Homo sapiens: one gene and its partners. The protein of the gene in region 2 interacts with the protein of the main gene of each other region in a pairwise test. Each region holds a gene or a part of one and is shown on either strand. Other genes may lie near its edges.

Evidence for each region. The genes of interacting proteins can lie anywhere in the genome.
Region 1: the proteins of NUDCD3 (region 2) and KLHL23 interact in binary tests that used the Homo sapiens proteins (3 or more experiments, as listed by UniProt).
Region 3: the proteins of NUDCD3 (region 2) and KLHDC8A interact in binary tests that used the Homo sapiens proteins (3 or more experiments, as listed by UniProt).

The regions. Positions count from the first base shown.
Region 1 is NC_000002.12:169,743,809-169,750,837, reverse strand, and holds part of KLHL23 (kelch-like protein 23), read right to left. Parts: intron 1,417-7,029; coding exon 1,106-1,416; 3' UTR 1-1,105. Other genes in the region: PHOSPHO2-KLHL23 (kelch-like protein 23), read right to left, coding at 1,106-1,416.
Region 2 is NC_000007.14:44,403,638-44,410,666, forward strand, and holds part of NUDCD3 (nudC domain-containing protein 3), read right to left. Parts: intron 947-7,029; coding exon 803-946; intron 1-802.
Region 3 is NC_000001.11:205,353,917-205,360,858, forward strand, and holds the start of KLHDC8A (kelch domain-containing protein 8A), read right to left. Parts: upstream 3,007-6,942; 5' UTR 2,617-3,006; intron 1-2,616.

The DNA of each region.
Region 1 (7,029 bases), on a different chromosome or scaffold from region 2:
TGCTTGAACTAAAGACAACTAAGCTAGCAATTTACATCAAAGCTGAAAATTAAAAACAGTTCTTAGCATAAACAAATATTTGACTATCTTCTATTTTTCAGACTTGCTATTCTTTTAAATTTAGTTTGTAAGCTCTTTGAACAGTAACAATCTTTTGCACAGTATTTTGTATATCTCTGGTAGTCAGTAAATAGAGAGTAACAATAAATTACACTATAAAGGAAAAAACTAGACAAAGTAAATCCACATTCTAAATAATTCTGAAGGTGAAAAAAGTGTTAAGGGTTGATTTTGTAGAGGTAGAGAAGATTCCCTCTTTAAATGTCAAATTCCTGCTAGCTAAATTGATTTTTTTTTTTTTTTGAGACAGGGTCTCGCCAGGTTAGTCTCCAACTTCTAGGCTCAAGTGATCCTCCCGCCTCAGCCTCCCAAAGTGCTGGGATTACAGGCATGAGCCACCATGCCCAGCCAGACATCTTAATATGCACTATCTACTATATTATAGGCTCTTGAGAAACATTTCATTCCACAGAATGGTTCTGATTTATCCCCAGTGTTGATGCTACCAAGAGGAAAAGATTCACTACAAAGGTAGTTCACCTTTTACCAAGTGTCAAATATTCTATATTACCTTTGAAAACCAGAGATTATAGGTATTAATCCCACTGATTCAACTGTGTATATATATACACATATATACGTATATATGTGTATATATATACACACATATATATGTATACACATATATGTATACATACATACGTATATATACACATACATGTATACATACATACTATATATACACATATGTATACATACATACGTATATATACACATATATGTATACATACGTATATATACACATATATATGTATACATATATATGAACACATATATGTGTGTGTGTATATATATATATATATAAGATTTTTCTTGACCATGAATCACCATGTTTGGGAGTACAGTAGGGTTAGGAATTACAATTTACTGATCCCCTATCATGTGCCAGACACAATTATCAGGTAAGGAACTTCAAACCCTGCATTCTTTTTTTATAAAACTATACTCCAAAAAAGTGATTGCTTGGTCATTTCTGCAGATTCAATTAGACATTATACACACAAACACACCCATGAGACCGCATGGCACTGGGAAGATTACCCACTATTTCCCACTTATTAAGATCTGGATCATATTTCTCAATGCTCTGAAGATACGTTCCCTTTGAGTAGGAGTATCCTCCAGTGACATAAATACATCCATTCATGATGACGGCACCGCACTCCATCCTCCTTTCCATCATGGGAGCTATCTCTCTCCATTCATTTTGTTCAGGGTCATAGCATTCTGTGATTGTAGTTTGTCCGCCGACTAGATAGAGCTTATTTTCAAACGGAACTGAGCACAATCCATATTCTTTTAAAAAGAAAAAAAGAAAACAGCATTTTTTTAAAGGATAACAAACAAAAGAGATTCCACAGTGTGGTAATGTAATAATCCTTTAAAATTTAGCACACAAAAAATAGGGAGTGGTGGTATTTTGATTCAGGCACACAATACTGCAACGCTGAGGCTGAAAATCATTCCCTGTCACCTAATTCAGATCGCCTGTTCCTGCCATGCTGCCATTATCCTTCAGCTTGTCCTTAGCTGGCTCTGTAGGAGGCCAGGGAGGAACTCACCCAACAGATCACCTTTCTGGGAATTTCCCAACACAGACAACTTTTACTTGACACCTATCTGTAAAAGATGGTAGCAGTAGAATCCTTATAGAAAGATACCCTCGATAAGCAGTGGTGTCCCTTCAGGTCTTGGCAGCTGTCTCCTTAACCAATGGCAGGCAATCTGGCATGCCTGCTGTCACAGGTGCCACACAGGGTGGCCTTGTGTGCTTCTCACACTGCCAGTCCAGTTATGAACTCAAGAAGCTAAAGAAACGTACCCAGACTCGTGGGGCATGACAGTCTATCATCCTGAGAAGCTGTGAAGGGTGCCCCCAGGCGGAGGGCTGCTGTGTGGGATCCGGGTCCTGGGGCTGGAAGTATGTATATGGGGGGGGGGGGGGGCGGTCCTCCTCCTAGGCTGTTTTAATGTTTTCCATTTTATCTCCCCCTCTACACCCAAACCTGCTGGATCTTCAAAGCACCAGCATATCTCACAACTCTACTTCTCCCTTCTTCCCAGGGCTGTGACAAGAGTGAGGCTAGCGAAGTGCTTAGGGTGCAAAATGCAGGGAGGCAGAACTCTGTGAGTCATTTGCACTGCATGGCCTTACATTTTGTGCCTGAAGCATCTCATTTGCCTCATCCTGGTCTCTGCCCTGTTTTCTTCCACACACCCGCTTTTATCGTCACTCCTAGCCTGTCAGTTCACTCTCTGGGAATATCAGTCATAAAATTACACTTAAAAACCTTTCGCTGGAGCCCCAAAGGAAGAGGAGGATTTGTCAGTGCATTCAAATTAAAGCAAGGAAAGATTTAGCGCACTATCGCTGAGCTGTTCCTTCTGCCTTGAAGTCTCTCCTCTCCCCAGGTCTCTGCACAGCTGCGTCCTTCCTGTCATTCCGGTCTTGTCTTACTCTCACCTCTTCAAAGGGCATTCCCTGACCACCCAGCCTGAAGTGGCCAGGCAGGCGTCTCTACCACATCATCCTATTTTAATTCTCTCCATAGCACTTCTCATTATCTGGAATGTTTCTTTTCTTTTCTTTCCTAGAGACAGGGTCTTGCTCTGTCACCCAGGTTGGAGTGCAATGGCACAATCATAGCTCAATATAGCCTCAAATTCCTGGGCTCAAGTAATCCTCCCATCTCAGCCTCTCAAGAAGCTGGGACTATAGGTACACATCATCACAACTGGCTAATTTTTGTATTTTTGTAGAGATGGGGTCTCCCTTTGTTGCCCAGGCTGGTCTACAACTCCTGGCCTCAAGAGATCCTCCTCTGCCTCAGCCTCTCAAAGTGCAGGGCTTACAGGTGTGAGCCAGGTGTGTTTCTTATCGTCTCTCTCTCCCTCCTGGCAGCACAGGAACTGTGTCCTGCTCACTAACCTATTCCTAATTGGAGAATGGCAACTGTCTGGCACCTTGTGAGAATTCGATAAATATGTGTTGAATAATGAATGAATTGTACTTTGTACGCTTGTGTCCCAATGTGTCCTCACATTATAACGTAGAAGGAAAGCTTATAAGCAAGCCCCTCTTTAGAAAGAATAATACAATCAGAAATGCGATTTCCAGATGAATGTGGTGGTGCACACCTGTAATCCTAGCTACTGGGGAGGCTGAGGCTGGAGGATTGCTTGAGCCCAGGACTTCAAGGCTAGTCTGGGCAACACGGTGAGACCCTGTCTCTTAAAAAAAAAAAAAAAAAAAGTGATTTCCTCTTTAGGAGTGGAAGACAACTTCTTACCAGTAAAGTTCTCCCTCAGTTTTTTTTTTTTTTTTTTTAGAGACAGAGTCTCGCTCTGTCTCCCAGGCTGGAGTGCAGTGGCGCAATCTCGGCTCACTGCAACCTCTGCTTCCCGGGTTCAAGTGATTCTTATGCTTCAGCCACCCAAGTAGCCAAGATTACAGGTGTGCACTGTAGCTGAGATTACGGGTGCGCACCACCATGCCTGGCTAATTTTTGTATTTTTAATAGAGATGGGGTTTTGCCATGTTGCCCAGGTGCTAGTCTTGAACTCCTGGACTCAAATAATGCACTGAGATTACAGGCGTGAGCCACCGTGCCTGGCCCTCCCTAGGTTTTGACAGCTAAGGAAAGTCTTAGAAGATTGCATTTTTGCTTCATTTCCACATATTTTTCTCGTTACTGACATCCAAGAAAATAATTATCCTACTTGTTAAAAACTCATTTTTTACTTTCCAGTTATTTATATGTTGAATTTTTATAGGATTTACTTGTTTCAAGTACTTGTGAAACACTGCTTATATCAATTATATGAATCATTCAACTAATGGTTATTGTGAAAATGATAGTTCAAATATTTTATCAGTTGGTAAAAGTGATTCAACATCACTCACTAGGCTTTTCTTAAATTACTTGAAGTTTATCAAAACACCCCAATTTTTGATTCATATGTTAAGAAAGCCATCTGTCTTCCTATAGCAGTAAAAATATTTAAGTAAAGTGATTCCTAATCATTTTTTCTCTTTTACTCAAATACAACACATGTTCTATTGTTGTGGATAGGAACTTTTTCTTCCTGAGCTGTAATTGCGTTTTTTCTTGTTAGTTAACCCCTCTAAGCCACTGAGGCTCTGGGACTGTGCCTTGCTCACTGTGCTCCTAGCACTGAGTATATAGCAGCATGTAGGATGCACACAGCAGATATGTTAGACATGAATGAGTGAACAAATGAATAATCAAGAATGGGAGTGACACCATCTGTCACGGCTCAAAAGTTTACACAGAAGTATAAAACATCAACACACAGCAGTCTGTATTCAGTGTTAGATGAGTGATATGAACAAACAGCTAGAGGGATTCAGAGAAAACCACAATATCCATTTGAATTGATTTCAATTTTTTTTCCTAAGATCTTTTCTCATTGAAGAGCCTGTAAAGTTTATGTAGTCTAACTTTCTGATTTCACTGGAAGGTAAGGCCCAAGAGCTTAGTCTACTTGCCGATGGCAAGGCAGGTAAATAAATGGCAGGGCCAGGAAAGTTCTCTCCCCACTTCACACAACTCTCCACAGGTCCTCCTTTATCACATACTGCTTCCTCTCGGCTCTTCACACCCTCTTGTTCCTCAGCTTATCCCTCAACTCTGCCCGTTTCCTAGGATTCTGCCCATAGCTGTATTGCTGGTCCCACCCTACCAAGGCATCTTATTCATCCCCATACCCAGAGCCACCATCCAAGCAAACAATCCCCAGATCTCTACATTCAGCTACCTCCCTCCTTCTCAGCTGCAAACCCACATTTCCCTTTGCCTGCTGGACAGCTCTTTTGGGTTATCCAATGATTCCTTTGCTCTAAACTATAAAATCGAGCTCATCATCTCCCCTCTTCTCCCTTCCTGTCAGCTTCTCCTTCAGTATACCTCATTCTCTCAGACAACCGGCCAGAGACCCTGAGACGACTGTCAACTCCTTTCTCTCCTTCATCTCCTGTATGCTGTCAGCCAAGGAAGCAATCAGCTGTTGAATCTATGACATTCCTCACATCGGCCCCTCTTTTCTACTCCTACCACTTCTTCAGGCTTTCAGCATTTCTCCCTTGGTTAAACACAATAGTGTTAGTAGATCCCCTTGCTGTCTTTCTCCCAATCTACCTAAAAGGAGTTCTCTTCCTTTTTTTTTTTTTTTTTTTTTTTTTTGAGACGGAGTCTCACTCTGTCACCCAGGCTGGAGTGCAGGGGCACGATCTTCAGCTCACTGCAAGCTCTGCCTCCCGGGTTCACACCATTCTCCTGGCTCAGCCTCCCGAGTAGCTAGGACTACAGGTGCCCGCCACCATGCCCAGCTAATTTTTTTGTATTTTTAGTAGAGATGGGGTTTCACCATGTTAGCCAGGATGGTCTCGATCTCCTGACCTCATGATCCGCCCACCTTGGCCTCCCAAAGTGCAGGGATTACAGGCGTGAGCCACCGCGCCCAGCCAAGAGTTCTCTTCTTAAAACCAGAGCTGGGCCAGGTGCAGTGGCCCAGTGCTTTGGGAGGCTGAGGCGGGTGGATGACTTTAGGCCAGGAGTTCAAGACCAGCCTGGCCAACATAGTGAAACCCCGTCTCTACTAAAAAAAAATACAAAAATTAGCCAGGCGTGGTGGTGCATGCCTGTAATCCCAGCTACCTGGGAGGCTGAGACACAAGAATCGCTGAACCCAAGATTGTGCCACTGCACTCCAGCCTAAGCAACAGAGCGAGACTGTCTTTAAAAAAAAAAAAACAAAAAACAAAAACCTAGAGCTGATCACACATCATTCTCTTGCTCGAAAACCTTTATGATTCTGCATTTTAAAAATTACCCAGACTGAGCTGGTTGTGGTGGCTCAAGCCTGTAATCCCAGCACTTTGGGAGGCTGAGGAAGGTGAATCACAAGGTCAGGAGTTTGAGACCAGCCTGGCTAACACGGTGAAACCCCATCTCTACTAAAAATATGAAAAATTAGCCGGGCAAAGTAGCAGCGCCTGTAATCTCAGCTACTTGGGACGTTGAGGCAGGAGAATACCTTGAACCTGGGATGCGGATGTTGCGGTTAGCCGAGATCACACCACTGCACTCCAGCCTGGGCAACACAGCAAGACTCCATCTCAAAAAAAAAAAAAATTACCCAGACTGCCATTCAAAGCTCTCCATGACATGCTCTCCAACTGAACTCTCCCATCCGATCTCCCATTCTACCCTCTTACATTCCATTCATTCATGTCTGCTCCCAGGTAATGGAATACACCTGAAACTTTCCTTTCCACCTTCCTCCACTGGGCTGACTTCTTGCCAGAAAAACCCTTCCTCAAAAACTACCTTCCTTATTTGGGGCCATTCTTTAAGGCCCAGCTCATAACCACCTACCGTTGGAAGCATTCTAAGATAGTCAGATTTCCCTTAATTAGACTTACACTCTTTTTATTCTCAATTTCAATAGCACTTGTTTTTACAGAACTTAGCAGAGACTGTCCTGTATTTCCATTATGTATGTATATTTGCTCCTGGATTCTGAGCTCCTACGGCAGTAAAGACTAACACTTAATCATCTTACATAATTATCAGAATCCTACCTTTTCCAATGTAGGGTCTCAATAAATGTCACCTTGAATTCAATGCAACTATAGTCCCATGTTTTCCAATTACACAAACTACCCCATTAAAGGGGTTAAGATAAAATATAATACTTATATTATCTTTAAAAAATAATAGTAGTCATTTCTTCTCAGTGTAAGCAATGTATCTCTATGAAGTCAACTCAAGGATGACATTTTAATTCCTCAGGAGGTACTGCTAAAATCCTTAAGAAACAAACCTTGCTATAATTCAGTGGATGCAGATGCACAGCCTTCAAGAGCTTAAGGATTTAACAGACTAG
Region 2 (7,029 bases):
GCCCAGGCAGAAGCCTGCCAAGCATGTCTTATAGAAACCAAAACAGATACCTTTATTGCATACTTTGCACATATGAAGAATATATCTGTATAAAATTCTAAAGACTTTTGTCCAGACATTATATTTTTCTTTTCACCTTTATTCCTTTTACCATGCCCTGTAAACACCCCAGTAGGAGAAAAAAAGGAAACAAGTTAGTTCAGAACATGTTGTGCCTCAATTTATCTGTAGGTGACCTCCACTTGGGCACCAGCACAGAGCCACCACTGACAAGGTTCAAAGCTTTCACAGGGGAGAAGGAGCTGAGCCACCAACAGATCTGGCCCAGGCGTGCAGCCCAATTTGTGAGCGAGTCTGCTAACTGGTAACATGTGAGCTGTTCATTTGGAGTCACACCTTAATCTCACTGTCCTGAACTCTTAGCTATGCCTAACCAGCAGCTGGCTAAGGACAGCCAGTTGGTCAATGAGCCTGATTCTCTGAATTTATTAACTCTGTACCCTCCAGAGTAGCATCTGTAAAAATTCAACCTAGCTTTTCATTTTCAATTTACTTGTTTTTGCCTTAGATGTAAGAACAGTGGAGCTCTTGGGAATGACCAAGACCTCAAAGGGCCAAAGCTCAAGTGCCCACAGAGACGATCTCTGAGCAGTATGGAAAATGCTCAGGAAAACCCATCTGCCCCAGCAGCTGAAATTAACAACCTCACTGCTTAAGTGTAAATAGGCTTGTTGGTCAAAAGGGGCATCACTGCAGGTTTGAAGTCCACCTGGGAGCCCTACACACAGGTGCCCAAACTTACCAAAACGCACTTCCCGGGCTCGAGACTCCAGAGAGAACTCTCAGTGTTGATCTTGTGGGTGAGCTTCCCTTCCATGAGGACGCGCTCCCCATTTTCCTCCAGCATGGCCACACGAATGGAGCTGCTGCTAAGGGCCACTGAGACCTGGGGACACAGCAGAAGAAAATCATCTCTCCTATCAGGGTGACCACTGGTGTGCTGTACGGTGGGAGTGGTGATGGTTTCCAAGGTACCTGACTGCACACTACAGCGCTGTCATCAGGCTCACCAGGCATCTCAGTGAAGAAAACCATACCAGCCTAATTTATACCTAGAGCAACCTGAAGATGTCAGCTCATTTAGTAAATCCACCAGAAAATCTTTCTCAGCATAACTGGTAACGTAAAATGCTGTGGTGGAAGCTGCTGTGACCCAATCTTCTTCTCCCTTCTCCAGTTAACGGAGACCAATTGTCACAGCAAAAAGTGAGCAGAGGAGACAAGTGGTATTTCTTCCTTGCCTCCCCTTGTGGCTACCTGGGAGACGCAGGAGCCCAGCCCTGGACCACAGCAACCAAGAAAGCTGAGGGGGCTGCACACCCTGAATTGCTCACCCCAGGACTGCTGTACAAGAGACAAGCACCACCTCTTCCTTCCATGAGCCACTGCACTGCCTGGTTGACTATAGCCTGGTCTTCATCCAAGAGTATGAGACCAACTCCTTTGGTTTTGGAAGGCAGCTATGCTCACCAATATACCACCAACACTCGCACATGGTTTTGCATTTTGTCTTGGTTCTTTACAAAACCAAGCCTCTAAAAGCCTCAGCTCACCCTCCTCCCTCTGAGCCTGTCCTAGGCAGAGACTGGCCCCATGGCCTTCCCCACCGCCCTAGGAACACCTATCCCTGCCCCACCACTTGTCCGTCTCCAGAACTGGACTGGCAGCTGTGGGAGTAGGGTTCCTTTTACTTCATATCATGTATTCCAGCCAGCAGTCTCCAAAGCAGGGTATGCATACCCCAGGAGGTTCACAGGTCAGTAATTAGAAGAGGAAATAAAACAGAACTTCCATTTACATTTTGTATCTGTATAATGTATGCATTAAGAAGACACTGGGATCAAGTACTTAAAACTTTTTTCTAATAGGTATGTGGAATAAAAATAATTTGGAAGCTACTCTCCATGTCATTTGGTAGATGGCTCATTAAACGCTTATAAAATGATTGGAAAAAAAGACAACCCAAACTGATAGATTTTCCAAACTGGAGTTTAGTATTTCCAATGAAATACAATACCATAACCTAACTGTAGTTTAAATATTCGTAAATAAAAAATGGAAATGGGAGAAATGATGTGCAGGAGTCACCGCTGTCAGTTTTTCTTCTTTTTCTTTAAGAGACACGGCCTCACTGCATTGCCCAGGCTGGAGTGCAGTGGCGTGATCCCAGCTCACTGCTGCATCAAACTCCTGGGCTGAAGCAATCCCTCCACCTCAGCCTCCCGAGTAACTGGGACTACAGGTACGTGCCACCATGCCTGGCTAATTTTATTTTTATTTTTTGTAGAGACAGGGGTCTTGCTGTTGCCCAGGCTGGTCTCGAACTCTTGGCCCCAAGTGATCCTACTGCCTCAGCCTCCCAAAGTGCTGGGATGACACATGTGAGCCACCACATCCAGCCCATCAGATAGTTACTAAATGAAAGATAGTTCCTGAGCCATGCAGTGAGGGGAGAAGGTGGCAGAAGGCTGCCCACTGGGGGACACAGCGAAGATATTCTGCTAACCACAGGCGGCTCTGCCAGGTTCACATGCAGACTCCAAGGAAGCATCCTCTCATGAGATCGCAGTTCCACTTGCATGACCTTTCATAGGGGAATTTACCACGGAAAAGGGTATTTACTTGGCTAGTCCTATTGAACAATAGGCAACTGAGCTTCACTCCCTACCTTCTAACACCATGAGGAACGTGAGCAAATGGAACAACAGATCCACTCACTCCTGAAATGATCCAGACACATGTTGGGCCAAATCATGTCTAACCATGAACTTGTGTGCAATGGAAACACGACACAGAGGGCCCAAGGCTCCTCAGCCTGCCTTCACAAGAACAAGCTCACTTAACAAATATAATTCTCCCACCCAGCTCTATATAACATAATAATTTCCAAATTTGGGGAAGCTTCTCACACTGCCTACCCAGGGGAATGAACCAAATCATCAAGGGAGAAAACCAGACAAGAAATGCTTCCAGAGGTCCCAGGTGAAGATGTCACACTGGGAACAGACAGCCATCTCTCTGACCTCTTGTGAACTGCAGGCATAATAGGCATGAAGAGAAAAACCCCAGACAGTGAAAATGGGGGAAGAGGGAGGCCAGGAACAGATGAGATGTCAACAAATCTGCAGAAGACAAAAGGAGGAGGGGCACAGGAGACAAATCCTATAGGGTAGGAGACATCCAGAAGCCACAGCTACATAGGCTCCAGTTGGGAGTCGGCAGGTATGCAGAGCAGGAGCAAGGCCAGGGGCACATGTGGGAACTGCTGTGGCCCTGGACGCCCCACTGAAAGGGACAGGAATCCCTCTGTTTGCTACAGAAGAATGGAGGACCTTGCTCCAAAGACACTGACCAGCAGTCTGAGGACCTAGTGTGGATGCCTGTGTGTCAAGTGAAGTCCTACTCACTCAAGCATTAGGATGCCAAGACCCTATGTCCTATAAAGCAAAGCTGACTGGTCAATCCACTCAGCTGTCGGTGGTGGTGGGACGAGCAGGTTTCAGACACACAGTAGACAAACCCATCAATACGGTCCCACACTCAAGAGAATGGGAGAAAAATATTTTTGTATTAAAAAAAAAAAAAAGACCGGGCATGGTGGCTCACACCTGTAATCTCAGCACTTTAGGAGGCCGAGGCAGGCAGATCACCTAAGGTTGACAGTTCGAGACCAGCCTGACCAACATGGAGAAACCCCGTCTCTACCAAAAATACAAAATTAGCCAGGCGTGGTGTTGTATGCCTGTAACCCCAGCTACTCCGGAGGCTGAGGCAGGAGAATCGCTTGAACCTGGGAGGCAGAGGTTGCGGTGAGCCGAGACTGCACCATTGCAACAGGAGCCTGAGCAACAGGAGTGAAATTCTGTCTCAAAAAAAAAAAAAAAAAAAACTAGAGAACTGAAGACTGCATCTTGTGAGAAAAAACAGGCAGATGAAAACAAGTTAAAAAAAAATACAGAGCTAATTTGGAAAAAAGATATCCAAAAATATTTCTATTTTATGTCTTCACAGAGATCTGAGAAGACACTATATCCATATAACCAGAATAAAATATGAAAATAGAACAATTAGGCCAAAAAGAAAGAACACAAGAATTTAAAATACAGTAGCTAAAATTAAACTTCAATAAAGAGGCTGGAAGATAAAGTCAAAGAAATCAAGGTAGAAACACAGATCAATTCAGGCAATCAATTTGGCATTCCAGAAATTATGACAGTAATAAGATAATTTTCCAGAGCCAAAGGAAAATATGCCTCCAGATTGAAAAGTCCCACCAAGAGCTAAGCAGAATGAATGAAAGACTCATGAAATTTTATGACACTGGGTGTTTTTAAAAAGGTCCTGAAAGTTCCAAGGAGGAGAAAAAGCTTACTCACAAAGAGATGGAATAGACTTCCAGAATCAATTACACAGAGTGTAAGAAGATATCCCTTTCAATCCTAACAAGGGAAAATTATTTTTAAGCTAGAATTCTACATACACCCAAACTGAGAAATAAGTGAAAAGTTAAAATAAATGCATTTTAAGATATACAACAATTCTACATTATATATCACTTTGAGAAAAACAAAATGAGGATGAAAACTGAAAAAGAGGAATATCCAACTCAAGTCCAAAAACTGCATTTAATCTATAAACGCAGGAAGAAAATACCAGGAGTGTAGCTATACAGCAGAACAGGAAATAACCAGTCTAGAGTGGAGTTCAGGCAGAAAGAGATTTCTAGACAATACTCAGTATTAATGAATCTGGGTAATTCTGAGGTTATGATGAAGTATACTATTTTTGATAACAAGATAAAAAAGAAGGGCAGCAAGAACCCTCAGGAAAACAAAAAAGATTTAAGAGATTCCTGATCCAAAGGATGTCAGTGAAAATGGTGGTTACTACAGGCCTCCAAAAAGCTCTCCTCCATAAAAGCAACCAAAAAGTTGGCAAAAATTGTCAGTATCAACTTCTTATGGATTTTGGAAACTAACCAAAGGTTTGCAGGAACCCAGGGAGCATTAATTCAAGGAAAACAACCACATCTCAGTAAGAACAGTGAGCTCTGTGATATTTTAATTTGGCCTAGACCCATCCCCACTCTCCAGGCTCTCAGCAGGCCGCATTCCTGGTACAGCGTAGCAGCCATCGCTGGAGAAAACAGTGCTCTTAGAGCTCTTTCAAAGCTTCATTCTCAAAGAACTGTCATCATTTGACCTGTCTGATGGTTCCCTGTAAGACCTCATTTGCAAGACTGACTGACTGTTTCTGGCTAAACTCAGAAAAGCCTTCCTCCCAACCCAGGAGTGTCTGTTGAAAATACGGCAAGTGTTTTAACTTTGCAGCCTCCTGAGGTGGCAGATAACAACTGAGGCAAACCAAAGGCAAAGGTGGGAAATAAAATGTCCGTGGGGGCTTTGAAAAGCTTTGACATTTTCCCAGGAATCTAGAAAGACACATGAATGTACAGAGCTTCACTGCACACTCAGGAAAAACCTAAGAAGGCCTTAAGCTCTCACCTCTGGCTGACTTTGACTCAACATCAGCAGGAAATAAAGGCTAAGGCAGTTTTTAACTGTTAGGCCAAGCAATGAAGGTATGCTCCAACAGGTAGATGAAGCCCCTCGACAAAAACAGGTGTTTACTGATCCCAGGAGTTTAAGGAAATCGCCATCTAATAATTACTTGGCCACTAAGTTCACCAAGTACAGATTTCACTGGTCAGACACAATAAAGAATACAAACTTTACAGAATTAGTTCAGAAAAGTCATTAAACAAGAACAACTATATCACGTACCAATAGCAACCATGGGAAGAAAGGAGCATCTGATTTCCTGAGTCACCCCATTGTGTTATTTAAAAATCCATTTCTCAATAACAGCAAAAAAAAAAAAATTAGACAAAGAAACAACAAAGTATGGCCCATACATAGGAAAAAGAAAGCAATCAATAAAATCTGTCCCTGAGGAAGCCCACATATGAAGAACTTAGCAGAAAACAGTCTCTAAATCACCTATTTTAAATATGCTCAAAGAGCTAAGAAAACTATGCAAAAATTACTAAAGGAAAGTATGGGAATAACGTCTTTTAAGTAGAGAATATCAATAAATATCAGTATCACTATTGATACTGATAACGAGATAGAAATTATTATTACCATTTTTTTAAGAATCAAATACAAATTCTGGAGTTCAAAAGTAAAAGGGGGAAAAGATAAGCGTTCATGAAAGGGGCTCAAAACCACTTTTTAGCATTTAGAAGAAAGAACAAGCAAACTTGAAGACAGGTCAATTGAGATTACCCAAACTGCGAAACAGGAGGAAAAAACAGTGAAGAAAAATAAACAGAGTCACAGAACCTGAGGGACACTATTAAGCATACCAACATACAGAAGAGAAAAGAAGAAAGAATATTTGAAAGAATAATGGCTAAAAACTTTCCAAATTTGACATGAAAAAAATTACACCCAAGAAGCTCAATGAATTCCAAGTAAAATAAACTAAAAGGGAGCCAGCCTCACCTAGATGTCATAATCAAACTGTCAAAAAAGCCAAGTCAATAATGAAGGAACAGAACAAAAACAAGGAATAAAATCTTCAGAACTTACTATAAAGCTACAGTAATCAAAACAGTGTGGTACTGGCATAAGGACAGGCATCTATACAGATCAATGGAACAGAATTAAAAGTCTAAAAACAGCCAGGCACAGTGGCTCACGCCTGTAATCCCAGCACTTTGGGAGGCCGAGGTGGGTGGATCACGAGGTCAGAAGATCAAGACCATCCTGGCTAACATGGTGAAACCCCGTCTCTACTAAAAATACAAAAAAAATTATCCGGGTGTGGTGGCGGGTGCCTGTAGTCCCAGCTACTTGGGAGGCTGAGGCAGGAGAATGGTGTGAACCCAGGAGGTGGAGCTTGCAGTGAGTGGAGATCCTGCCACTGCACTCCAGCCTGGGGGACAGAGCAAGACTCTGTCTCAAA
Region 3 (6,942 bases), on a different chromosome or scaffold from region 2:
AAAGCTATTAGAGTTAGGCAGAACAGGATGCTGGATTCAAACTCAGATCTGCCTAACCCCACAGCCCATATCCTCTTCAGGCCACCATGATTCTAAGATGACCACCAGCAGCCCAGCGAGGACCCACTCAAATGGCTGCTGGTTTGGGCTACCCCCATGAACAGGCAGGGCAATTGGGACTTAGGCTTTAGGGATCCAGGCCCCACCTCAGCTCGCTCCACCTCAGAGCCTGGTCCTGAGCATGGGCCACAGACAAGCCAACAATAGTGACAGCTCCACATCAGCGCCATCTCCCTTTTCTTGCCTCTTTCCTCAACCTTTGCTATCTATTTTCATCACCTTTTAGCTTTCTTTGGAAAGATTAAATTTGCATTTAAATAGAAAACCTCTTGAATGACTCTGATGTAACTTTAGGTACTAATTACAAATTCATTCCTCTTTAAATATTAAGGCACTTCAGTTCATCTCAGGGGTGATGGACAGCAGCAATGCTTGGTATTGATGTGTAATGAATATTGAGCTGTTTATTGCAAAGCGCTTACAATCCCTCACCAGCAGAGGGCAGACAGGAGATGTTCTCAAGACCTATATGGGAGATGTCTTGGGAGCCTAAAATCTGCTAAAAATAAATATCTGTAAGCAGTAATCCTTGAGAGAAATTGGAAGATGGCCAGTGGGATGGAAGCTGCTGGGGGTAGGGTGGGAGCACCCAGAAGTCCTCGGGTTGCCAGTTTCCTCAGTTGCTTATAAGTGTCTCAAGGCAGGTGCATTCATCACTCTTTCCCATCACCAAAACTAATGCCTGGCATTCAATGGGGACCCAAGGAATATTTACTGAATGAATGAGGGAATGAATGAATGAATGGATGAATAAGGCAATTAATCATGATGGGAGAGATCATTCATTCAACTACTATAATGAGTCAGGCATTGCACTTGATAATTTACGTAAGTCTCTTTGTTAAATGATTGATTCCTTTGGATATTTCCCAGGGTCATGAAGATGACGCACAAATTCTCCTTTCTCCTGAAGAATTGCACTTGGTATTTTACCTGCTGATTTCATAGGTGACAAAACAAACTCAGAGAGGTGAAGCAATTAGCCTCAGAGCACCCAGTTCAATCTGAAGCTCAGCCAGGACCCAAACGCTGGTCTCAGGCTCTGAGCCTGGCTCTCTATAAAGTGTATCACTCCCCCTCATCCTGGTGCTAGGCTGGTTATTCCAGTGTTCACAGTGTCACACCCTAATCTTGGCCCTTGTCCTCAAGATGCTGGGAGCCCAAAGTCCAGTCCAGCCTCTCAGCCAGGCTTAATGCCTGGGCTCCAGCCAAACCACTCTATTGCCTGATGCCCAATAGGCCTTTCATTTCCTGCCTCCATACTTGGCTTTGTGCTTTCTGCTTCACATGCTCCTTCCTGCTTGTTGACATTCTATTCATCCTTCAGGGCTTGGCCTGAATGCCGCCTCCTCCACGCCTTGCATGATCCCTGCAGGCAAGAGTCATTTTTCCCGTTTCTATAGAACTTCATCTATAACTATGTTAGCATGATAATAACCACCACTCATTATTCTAAACACCACACTACATTCTTTACATATTTTGTATAATTTGAACCTCATAAAAAGTCAATAATAACAATAATAATCATCTTTAACAAGTATATGGTGCTCAATATGCGTCATGAACTGATCAGAGTTTGGTGTGTGTGTGAGTTGTGTGTGTGTATAATTTAGCCTATAAAGTAGGTACTATTATTATTGTCATTGTACAAAGGTGAAAACTTAGACTTAGAGAGGTTAAATGACTTGCCCAAGGTCACACAGCCAGAACAGGGATGTGACATCTAGCTTGCCTGGCCCCGGAATCCCCATACCTGTCTATGTAGATATTCTTTCTTACCAGATGGTAAGCATCGGAAGGCAGGAACCATGTTATGTGCCATTGCTGTCAAAGCACTTTCCCTTCGGAGCCAAGCACAGCAATGTGTATGTACATAGTAGGTAGTCCATAAGTTTTAAAAATCTTAATTTTAGACCCAGGGGCATGTGCGCAGGTTTGTCACAAGGGTGTATTTCGTGTTGCTGTGGTTTGGGTTTCTATTGATCCCGTCACCTGTATAGTGAACACAGTAACCTAATAGGAAGTTTCTCAGCCCTTGTCCCCCTCCCCCCCTCCCTCCTTTTTGAGTTCCCAGTGTCTATTGTTCCCATCTTGATGTCCATCTGCATCCAGGGTTTACCTCCCACGTTTGTAAGTGAGAATATGCAATATTTGGTTTTCTGTTTGATATTCCATAAAGTTGAGCTGAATTCGGATCAGAAGCCAGAAGTTCTGGAGGTTGGCTGTATGTTGGTCAGTCTGTGCCCTGGACAGCAATCTTTGGAGTTAATTAGCTGGGTTAAAACCAGATGGGAAGGAACCTTTAACTTCAAAGCTAGAGAGGCCCAGCTGAGGAGAAAAGGCCCTTGGAGACCCTTGTCCCTCCTGACCCCCATGCCAGCCTGTCTACCTGGGCAGCCCTCCTCTCACAGACACCACTGCCTGTCTCCCCACCAGCAGGCCCTCAGAATGCCAAGGCATCACTCTGCATAGATGGATTGAAATAAAACTTACCTGACTGGAGGGAAAAGGATCGACACCCGGCGATCATCTGCAAAAGACAAAGAAGGGGAGGGGCCGGGAGAGGGTCGAGCGGGTGTTGGCTCTGAGGCTTGTCCTAGGAGCTGGCTGGGAATAGAGTCGGCAAGGTCCCCAGGGTCCCCAGGGCTTCCTCCACAATTGATGAGTCCACTGCTGCTGCCTCTGGCTGATCGACTGGGATGCAGCCAGGCCCCTATGCACAGGGCATGGGGCCAGCCCCGCCCTGAATGCACAGAAACTTGGGGTCCCTGAGTTCCAGGAGGCGTGACCCCCCTACTGAGAGGGCCTCAGCCAGCTCGTCAGAGCCCCAGTGTCTCCGCGCCTCTCCCTCCACCCAGTCTCAGCTGCAAAGGCCCGCTCTGCGAGGAGAGCGGGTGAGGGGGCGGACACGCTCACACACACAGACAATAACTGCCATGGAAACTAACCAACAAAAAGAAGATTTAGGGAGCCGGACTCCTCTGCCAGATGGGAGAGAATGGAGGGAAGAGAGAAAGGGGCTGTCCTTTGCAACGCTGCCAGTTATGCAAAGGGCAAATGTGCACCTCAGCCCTAATCCAACAATTGCAGATTTTTCCCTCCTCAGGGGTGGGGCTGTGGGTAAAAGGCAGAGAAGTGGGTTGACCTTTTTATATGAAGGTCCCAAACAGCCACCCCATACCTTTGCCTTTCTATGCACAGAGGAGGCATCAGTGTGGTCCAGCGTGGGTGCGAGATTCCCAAGGAAATGCTCAGCACCGCTGGCAAAGCGAAACTCGTTCCACAAAGCAACGTGTTTTACCAGGTCAAGCTGAACCTCAGGGGAATTTGATCACTTTACTTGGGCAGAAGGCTTGAAGGACTTTCTTAGATGAAAAGCCCACTGTTTAATGGGTAGCAAAACAAGGCTTTTCTTCAAGACCAACCTTTCTATCCATGATGTTAAATCTGACTGCCCGTAGTTTAAAGAAAGCCGGGGATGGAGTGGGGGCTAGCATCGATATGGCTTTCCTTCCGATGGCCTTTAGTTTTGTTTGGGGAGATTTTTCTCTCTGGGATAAAAGAAAATCTAATGAGGGAACTTAAAAAAAATTCTCTGGAGGTACTGTAAGGGAAATAAGGTAATCTGAGCACCAGAAATCCTGCTCTAACTCTTTAGCTGTGTGACCTTTGGCAAGTTTCTTCGTCTGTAAAATGGGACCAATGGGGTTGTAGAGAGGATTAAATGAGGTAATATGTGTAACGTGCTTAGAACAGTACCTGGCTCATAGTATTTGCCATTGTTATGGCTATTGTTGTTAATCTTTCTGATCCTCCCTTTCCTCAGCTATAAAATGGAGCCAGTGACACCAATCTCTCATGGATTAAGTGTGAGGATGAATCATGTCGTTATAACTGATGGAGTGGTGGTTATAAGGGTGTATACATTTGTCAAAAACCATCAAACTGTGGGTTTTATTGTGTGTAATTTATACCTCAACTTTTTAAAATATAGGTTTATATCACCAGGTAAAGCAGCCATGAGTGTCTAGAACATAGGAAATATTTATTCCCTTCTTCCTCCCTAGCCATCTTTTCAGGAAGAGAGGAAAGAGAAAGTGAATGTTAGAAGAAAGAAGTAAAATAGAGAATTGCTGGGTGCAGTAGCTCATGCCCATAATCCCAGCACTTTGGGAGGCCAAGGTAGGAGGATCATTTGAGACTAGTCTGGGCAACATGGCAAAACCCCACCTCTACAGGAAATACAAAACTTAGCCGGGTATGGTGGTGTTTACCTGTGGTCCCAGGTAGTTGGGAGGCTGAGGTGGGAGGATCATTTGAGCCTGAGGAAGTCGAGGCTGCAGTGAACTGAGATCATGCCACTGCATTCCAGTCTGGGTGACAGAGTAAGACCCTGTCTCAAAAAAAAAAAAAAAAAAAGTGAAAAGGAGCATTGCATAAGAAAGAGGCCATATTGATTTTGTAGGTAATGGGCTATCTGTTGAGACTCAGTTATTCTGGCTATTTCCTGAGTCTTGAATATCAATCTGTCACCTGCAAAGGCAATACCTGGGTAAATGAGTTGCCTTTCTTAACCCTCTCCTAATTTCATATCCTAGTATAAGAAAGTGAACTGCACTGCAGGGTGCTTCCTACTCCTGTTCTGGAAGCCTTTTCATCACTATTACTTCTCCACCACAACTATCCCTTTGTCTCCCAGATGCCCTGCTGGGCTGCACTTTGGTTCCTGAACAAGGTGGCCTGGGGACCATTGGCTGCAAGGTGTCACACCTAATGAAGTGTTGGCCAGGGCAGACTGCTGTCCATCAGAACAGCCCATGATGAACTGAGTTAGATATACCTGGAGGAGACTGCTACAACCTAATTAAAGAGGAATTGTGTGTGTATGTGTGTGTGTGTGTGAAGGGACTGGGAGGATGGAGAATAGTATGTAATTAAGAATCAAGTAAAAGTAATCCCTGGAGATAGACTACAGACCTCAAGCTGACAGCTTGCCTGAACCATAACTGCTTGGGTGATAGTGGAGATTGGAGTCATGCTGCCAAGTGGTCCCAAACCAAAGGGAAGCTTGCTGTTTGTCTCTGTTTGTTCTATGGGGTGAAGTCTATAAATAAATAAATAAGATATTTCACATCCGAGAACAATTTAAACTCAATTTGTAAATATCCATTCTAAGCAAATATGGATGGGCGATGGCTCTTCTATTTTGTTTGGGATTACAAGACTGAAAAAGAGGCAAATGTGGCCAGGCGCGGTGGCTCAAGCCTGTAATCCCAGCACTTTGGGAGGCCGAGGCGGGCAGATCACGAGGTCAGGAGATCGAGACCATCCTGGCTAACACAGTGAAACTCCGTCTCTACTAAAGATACAAAAAAAAAATTAGCTGGGCTTGGTGGCGGGCGCCTGTAGTCCCAGCTGCTTGGGAGGCTGAGGCAGGAGAATGGCGTGAACCCGGGAGGCAGAGCTTGCAGTGAGCCCAGATCGCGCCACTGCACTCCAGCCTGGGCAACAGAGTGAGACTCTGTCTCAAAAAAAAAAAAAAAAAAAAGAAAGAAAGAAAGAAAGAAAAAGAGGCAAATGCAAAGATGGTGATGAAGAGGCTTCAAAGATGAAATCCTTTCAGGATCATGGCTCTCATCCCTCCAGAAATGTTTATATCTAGGGACAGGGAAGAAAGGAGGATGAGTTCAGATTGTGATAACTAAGATAATCACTAAGATGATTGTAGCCCTACATTACAATTCTCAATGTCAAACCCTGGAGATGAAGAGGTCTAACATTTAGCCCAGAACCTTTCCAGTGATGAAAACAAACAACGACTCTTTTGGCATTGGTCTGATATTCAGTGACAGAATAAAGTTTGTTCCAGCCGAAATTAGCAGGCTAGGGTCCAGGTTAAAATGCAAACAAAGAAAGCAGCCCAGAGGCAGCTGGGATTCTGGGACACAGATAAGTCACAAAGCTGGGTTTATCTGCAGGGTTCAGGATTGATCAGCTCAGCGTATATTTCCAAGGCTCTTCTCTACTCAGCCACCCCTCCCAGCTCAAAAAACAAGAGGCCCACACCAAAATATAAAAAGGTGCTGGATCTAAAATCCTGCCTAATTTAAGCTCTGCTCACAAAGGAGGCCAGAGAGCAGAGGGAGGGGTGGAAATCAAATAAGTAAATGTCAGCCCTGCAGTTGGGTAGAAGCCATTAGCCAGGCAGAGCATCCAATTAGAAGCCATTGAATTAGAGCAGTGAAAGAAGGGCCTCACGTCAGAGGGCACTGCGGGGAGGGCCGGCACAAGTGGGCAGGAAGGAACGCGGGGTGGCGATCAATGGAGGATTACCGGAAGATGTGCAAATGGCAGGAACAGATGCCTTCCAAATGACAGGGCACCCGGTCCAGATACTCTACATAAAATGCCCACATGGTTCCTTTGTCCTCCCCCAAATCCTGTCTGAGGGAGTCCAGCCATCTCATGGGCTATTTTGGAAAACACTGCTCCCTTTTGCCTCAACCCAGAGATAAAATGGGCAGCTCTCAGCCACTCTCGGATTAATCTGAACAGACAAAGAAGGGGAGCAAATCCCTTGGCAAATGGTGCCTGGGAGATTTCATTTTTCCGCTTTGCAGTACAAACCTACTCAAACAGATACTAAAATACAAAGCGAAGTTTGTTCACATGGAGATGTTTTTATTTAAAACTATAATATTATTTTATTTTGTAATCAGTAATTGTCAATGCTCAATCTTTTTTTTTTTAACAAATTCTTATTTCCTTGTTCAGAGAAGAAAAAGATTCACATTTCCTTCCTTTCTCCTAAATTAGAAG